Homo sapiens: one gene and its partner. The protein of the gene in region 1 interacts with the protein of each later gene in a biochemical or structural test. Each region holds a gene or a part of one and is shown in the gene's direction. Other genes may lie near its edges.

Evidence for each region. The genes of interacting proteins can lie anywhere in the genome.
Region 2: the proteins of BCL9 (region 1) and USP9X form a complex in vitro, tested with the Homo sapiens proteins (one study listed by BioGRID).

The regions. Positions count from the first base shown.
Region 1 is NC_000001.11:147,618,001-147,621,500, forward strand, and holds part of BCL9 (B-cell CLL/lymphoma 9 protein), read left to right. Parts: intron 1-815; coding exon 816-3,057; intron 3,058-3,500. UniProt on the Homo sapiens protein: Involved in signal transduction through the Wnt pathway. Promotes beta-catenin's transcriptional activity.
Region 2 is NC_000023.11:41,091,945-41,095,444, forward strand, and holds part of USP9X (ubiquitin carboxyl-terminal hydrolase 9X), read left to right. Parts: intron 1-3,500.

The DNA.
Region 1 (3,500 bases):
GTGGTACTTAATAAACAATAATAAGGCAATCATCCAGCATATTAAAAAAGGGCAGTCTACTGCCTATTGGAAAGAACAGTTCAAGAGACACCATGAGCTAGATAGCCTCAGATTTCTCCACAGAAGCTTCCTGCCTGCAGATTATCTCACTACAGTTAATGTACAAATTCTTATCAAATGTGGAATCAGTGATCACCAACCAAAAACGGAAACCAGAGATGTCAGGCCTCCTGGAAACTCCAGGAGGGGAGTGCCTCAGTAGTCACCCTGCCAGAGGAGACGTTGAAATGGAGCAGCTGCTTCCTCGGCTGGTAGAATACAGAGCTGCAAGTGACTTACGCTTTCTCTCTCAAGATGGCAACATCAGGCCTTTTGATTGACAATGAGAAGTCTACATACCCAGTTATACTTTCAGGGAAAAGAAAAAGGTGTTAGGTACAGCCTCCCACATACCAAGAAACTAATCTCTCTCTGAATCAGAAACACATAGTAGACATGTGATATCAAACCTGTTCCTCAAAATAGATACTGAAATGTATTCACTTTGGCAGAGTGGCTCTCCCCTGGCATACTTTTAAAGTTATTGAAACCTAATCTTCAGCAAGGGAAAGAGGATACCATTTGACAGTAAGTTTAAAAAAAAAAAAATCAAAATGTCTCCATGCCCAAAAGAGGGTTGTACGTGAGCAATTTCTACAGCCAGTGTCAGTTAGATTTATGTGCCTGGGGACAATTCCTTTATAACATATCTTGCTCTTTTAATTGCCCTTCTGTTCAGTTTACTAATGATTTTTAAACTATTTGTTTGTCTTCAGAACACACAGATATCTGCCCTTCGGAATGATCCGAAACCTCTCCCACAACAGCCCCCAGCTCCGGCCAACCAGGACCAGAATTCTTCCCAGAATACCAGACTGCAGCCAACTCCACCCATTCCGGCACCAGCACCCAAGCCTGCCGCACCCCCACGTCCCCTGGACCGGGAGAGTCCTGGGGTAGAAAACAAACTGATTCCTTCTGTAGGAAGTCCTGCCAGCTCCACTCCACTGCCCCCAGATGGTACTGGGCCCAACTCAACTCCCAACAATAGGGCAGTGACCCCTGTCTCCCAGGGGAGCAATAGCTCTTCAGCAGATCCCAAAGCCCCTCCGCCTCCACCAGTGTCCAGTGGCGAGCCCCCCACACTGGGAGAGAATCCCGATGGCCTATCTCAGGAGCAGCTGGAGCACCGGGAGCGCTCCTTACAAACTCTCAGAGATATCCAGCGCATGCTTTTTCCTGATGAGAAAGAATTCACAGGAGCACAAAGTGGGGGACCGCAGCAGAATCCTGGGGTATTAGATGGGCCTCAGAAAAAACCAGAAGGGCCAATACAGGCCATGATGGCCCAATCCCAAAGCCTAGGTAAGGGACCTGGGCCCCGGACAGACGTGGGAGCTCCATTTGGCCCTCAAGGACATAGAGATGTACCCTTTTCTCCAGATGAAATGGTTCCACCTTCTATGAACTCCCAGTCTGGGACCATAGGACCCGACCACCTTGACCATATGACTCCCGAGCAGATAGCGTGGCTGAAACTGCAGCAGGAGTTTTATGAAGAGAAGAGGAGGAAGCAGGAACAAGTGGTTGTCCAGCAGTGTTCCCTCCAGGACATGATGGTCCATCAGCACGGGCCTCGGGGAGTGGTCCGAGGACCCCCCCCTCCATACCAGATGACCCCTAGTGAAGGCTGGGCACCTGGGGGTACAGAGCCATTTTCTGATGGTATCAACATGCCACATTCTCTGCCCCCGAGGGGCATGGCTCCCCACCCCAACATGCCAGGGAGCCAGATGCGCCTCCCTGGATTTGCAGGCATGATAAACTCTGAAATGGAAGGGCCGAATGTCCCCAACCCTGCATCTAGACCAGGTCTTTCTGGAGTCAGTTGGCCAGATGATGTGCCAAAAATCCCAGATGGTCGAAATTTTCCTCCTGGCCAGGGCATTTTCAGCGGTCCTGGCCGAGGGGAACGCTTCCCAAACCCCCAAGGATTGTCTGAAGAGATGTTTCAGCAGCAGCTGGCAGAGAAACAGCTGGGTCTCCCCCCAGGGATGGCCATGGAAGGCATCAGGCCCAGCATGGAGATGAACAGGATGATTCCAGGCTCCCAGCGCCACATGGAGCCTGGGAATAACCCCATTTTCCCTCGAATACCAGTTGAGGGCCCTCTGAGTCCTTCTAGGGGTGACTTTCCAAAAGGAATTCCCCCACAGATGGGCCCTGGTCGGGAACTTGAGTTTGGGATGGTTCCTAGTGGGATGAAGGGAGATGTCAATCTAAATGTCAACATGGGATCCAACTCTCAGATGATACCTCAGAAGATGAGAGAGGCTGGGGCGGGCCCTGAGGAGATGCTGAAATTACGCCCAGGTGGCTCAGACATGCTGCCTGCTCAGCAGAAGATGGTGCCACTGCCATTTGGTGAGCACCCCCAGCAGGAGTATGGCATGGGCCCCAGACCATTCCTTCCCATGTCTCAGGGTCCAGGCAGCAACAGTGGCTTGCGGAATCTCAGAGAACCAATTGGGCCCGACCAGAGGACTAACAGCCGGCTCAGTCATATGCCACCACTACCTCTCAACCCTTCCAGTAACCCCACCAGCCTCAACACAGCTCCTCCAGTTCAGCGCGGCCTGGGGCGGAAGCCCTTGGATATATCTGTGGCAGGCAGCCAGGTGCATTCCCCAGGCATTAACCCTCTGAAGTCTCCCACGATGCACCAAGTCCAGTCACCAATGCTGGGCTCGCCCTCGGGGAACCTCAAGTCCCCCCAGACTCCATCGCAGCTGGCAGGCATGCTGGCGGGCCCAGCTGCTGCTGCTTCCATTAAGTCCCCCCCTGTTTTGGGGTCTGCTGCTGCTTCACCTGTCCACCTCAAGTCTCCATCACTTCCTGCCCCGTCACCTGGATGGACCTCTTCTCCAAAACCTCCCCTTCAGAGTCCTGGGATCCCTCCAAACCATAAAGCACCCCTCACCATGGCCTCCCCAGCCATGCTGGGAAATGTAGAGTCAGGTCAGTATGCTTGCATCCTCACAGTTGCACCTAGTAGCTGGAGACTGCTAGACCTGATAGTTACTTTAAGAAAACTGGTGTCTTGAGTACACAGACAGAGGAGGCAGTCTTTGTTGAAATGGCCATATTTGTGGCAAGGTGCATAATCAGTGCTTCCATGGGGTTATGCAGAAGTGTCCAATCTCAGCAAAAAATACGTATGTCAGAGAGACTGTTAAAAGGAAGAGGGGAAATGGGGAATATGTGTTGGGTTCACAGAATAATTTACATTCGCACAATGAACAAATGCAATAAAATGTCTTAACAGTGGATGAATGTGGCTTCTTTAAATACTGGACCCACTGCAAGGGGCTGCCCTTGAATCGAGATTCTGGGTATAATCCTAAGCAGAGAGAGGGGAAGCTGCTGTAAGACTTGTGTGGTTCTTGTAAATACCTGTTGAC
Region 2 (3,500 bases), on another chromosome or scaffold:
CACCTAGAATAATACTGTTTATAATAACCATTTGATTACCTGAATGGGAAAATCTGGGGCAGTATTTAACTTGCAGTACCTCCAACCTCTTGTACAGAATTGATTCATCTTCATTTTATGGCACCCTACAGTTTATTCTTATTAATCATGTGAGCTTTGAACACCATGTTAGTCAACCATAATCAAAGGAATTGTTTTCCTTGGGATGAGTTTGAGCTGGTGATCGTGCATATTAGATCCCATCTTCTACAGAGCCTGTGAATTGGGTGGAAAGGAAAAAGGGAGTGGCGAAGCCTCCTGTTAGTATCCTTGATGTCCATTTTATTCCTGCTGACTTTGGTGGCTATTGAGAGTTATAAGTTGAGGCTGTTGGTTACATCTCTCATTTCTAGTCTTTTCTGTTAACTGGTTACTTAGAACTCCTAAGTAAGGCCGCTCATTATTAACTTGGACCCCAGAGAGCATGGAAGTTACCGTATAGTATTGAACCCATTTCTGCCTAACAGTGTTTTCTCTCTGGTCGAGGTGTAGTGTACAAAGTTTTGGTTGCTCTGCTTGGTAACATCTCTGGAGTTCAGAGCACAGGGATCAGTAAACTTTTTCTGTAAAGGGCCACATAGTAAATACTTTGGACTTTGTGGGCTAAGAGGCAAAATTGAGGACATTGGGTAAAATTTTTATTGGTGAAATAAAAAATATAATTAAATACAGTTATGTATAACTTAGGTCTAATGAGAAAAACAATTTGGTGTGTGTGTGTGGAGGGGAGGTAATACAGTATTTTGCTTTATTGGGTAAAGTTCAGTGTTCCCTGTCATCAAATTGATTGCAGACGTTCTGTGTGAAATCCATTCTTACCTTGTGAGCTGTACAAAAACAGGAGGCTGGAATTGGTCTGTTACCATAGTTTGCCAGCCCCTAGTTAAGAGCAGTGATTTTTTTTTTTAAGAGGAGGGGTCTCGCTGTCACTCAGGCTGGATTGTGGTGACGCAATCATAGCTCATTGTAGCCTGGAATTCCTGGGTTCAAGGCATCCTCGCACCTCAGCCTGCCGAGTAAGTAGGACCACAGGCCGACATCACCTCACCTGGTTAATTTTTGTTAGAGAACAGGGGTTTGACTGTGTTTCCCAGGCTGGTCTCAAACTCCTGGCCTCAAGCAATCCTCCTGTTTTGGCCTCCCAGTGTTGCTGGGATTATAGGCCTGAGCCACTGTGCTTGACCTCCTATTTGATACACTATATGTTAACAACTCTGAACCTCCTTTCCTTAAGTCAGGTTCAAACTTCTGTACATTAGCTGATGAAAGGGATTTCTTTTTATTGCAAGGTGGTATTGCCTGAGAATAGTTTGGTTTCAGCAGCTTTGCTGTATTTGTACGGCAGTATCTTGTGTTTATGTGCAAGTTCAGATGTATTTTGCCTTTTTATAAGAATGAGCAGAAAACAAAAAAGTAAATGGCGCGATCTCGGCTCACCACAACCTCCGCCTCCTGGGTTCAAGTGATTCTCCTGCCTCGGCCTCCTGAGTAGCTGGGATTACAGGCATGCGCCACCACACCCAGCTAATTTTGTATTTTTAATAGAGTTGGGGTTTCTCCATGTTGGTCAGGCTGTCTTGAACTCCCGACCTCAGGTGATCCGCCTGCCTCGGCTTCCCAAAGTGCTGGGATTACAGGCATGAGCCATCATGCCTGGCCTACCTGGAGGTCTTAAATATCCTTGAGACAGAGGGAACTGGTTAGGGATATGAATCTTAAACCTTACTGGATTAGGTTGTGCTCATTGGTTAGGTTAGTTGGCTTTGTGCAAATAGTGAATGCAATAATTAGAATGAAATAGGAATTAAGTGAGGCAAATGTATGATGAAGTTTACATTTGAAAGGTGAGGGTATAATTAGAAATAAAAGTTTCTGTACTCTGTGAGTGGGAAAAACCCCTAAAAAGGTGACTGTCGTTTTTGAAATTTTTGACTTCTCTCACATTTTCGGGAATGTGAAAGGAGGATACTGGCTATGTACAGCATTTGTCCAGACTTTTGAAAATATAGAAAATCTCATTTACTCATTTAATTAGTGTGTATATTATCTGTTTACTGTGTCCTTTGTAGATATAATTAATTATCCAGGATTCTTAAGAGTTGACTTGGAGCATGCTGAGCTGAGGCAAGAGGGATTGTGGGGCCAGACTGAGTGTTGGAGGAGGAACCTACTGTAGTGACTACAGGTGTATTTCTTTTTTCTTTTTTTTTGAAATGGAGTTTCACTCTTGTTGCCCAGGCTACAGTACAATGGCGTGATCTCGGCTCACTGCAACCTCCGCCTCCTGGGTTCAAGTGATTCTCCAGCCTCAACCTCCTGAGTAGCTGGGATTACAGGTGGGTGCCACTATACCCGGCTAATTTTGTATTTTTAGTAGAGATGGGGTTTCACCATGTTGGCCAGGCTGGTCTCGAACTCCTGACCTCAGGTGATCCACCTGCCTCATCCTCCCAGAGTGCTGGGATTACAGGTGTGAGCCACCGTGCCTGGTGTGTTTCTTGTCTGATGTCAGTGCATGTCGTTATCTGAGCCATATCAATGTCAGCTGAGGATTGCTTTGTTATCCTCGGTGCATTATGGGAAGGAGAATCATGTCAGTGCTACCTTACTGTGATTGAATTGAATTCATTGATTTAATATAGATTCAGTTAGTACGCCTTATCCATAATATTTGGGATCAGAAGTGTTTCCGATTTTGTAATTTTTTCCCCATATTTTGGAATATTTGGAATATTACTTGCGGGTGAGTGAAAATTCAAAATCCGAAATTTGGGGCCAGGCGCGGTGGCTCACCCCTGTAATCCCAGCACTTTGGGAGGCTGAGGCGGGCAGATCACTTGAGGTCAGGAGTTCGAGACCAGCCTGGCCAACATGGTGAGACCCCCGTCTCTACTAAAAATATGAAAATTAGCCAGGCATGGTGGTGTGCACCTGTAATCCCAGCTACTCAGGAGGCTGAGGCTGGAGAATCCCTTGAACCCAGGAGGTGGAGGTTGCAGTGAGCCCAGATCGCGGTACTGCACTCCGTCTAGCCTGGGTGACAGAGCGAGACTCCGTCTCAAAAAAAAAAAAAAAAGTTCAGATTTTGGAGCATTTTGGATTCCAGATTTTTCAGATAAGGGATGCTCAACCTGTGCCATTTTAGGCACCAGAGGGTATATAAAGATGATTCTCTGCTTTCAAGGCTCTGAAGTATGGTGAACCAGACAGTTATACAGTGCAATTACAGCTGTATTAAGTGGAGGTGTGAAAAGTGTAGTAGGAGAGATGGAGAAATCATTGTTTGGCATTGGGTGAGGTCTTCAAAGATGTCCTATTTTCATGGCCCTATTAATTAGAGCAGGGACTTCCGGTCAGAGGGATCAACTTGAGATCAGGCAGGGTTTTTTAACCCTATTGACAGTTTGGGGCAGATAAGTCTTTGTTGTGAGGTGCTGTCCTACTCAGCCCTGGCTTCTACC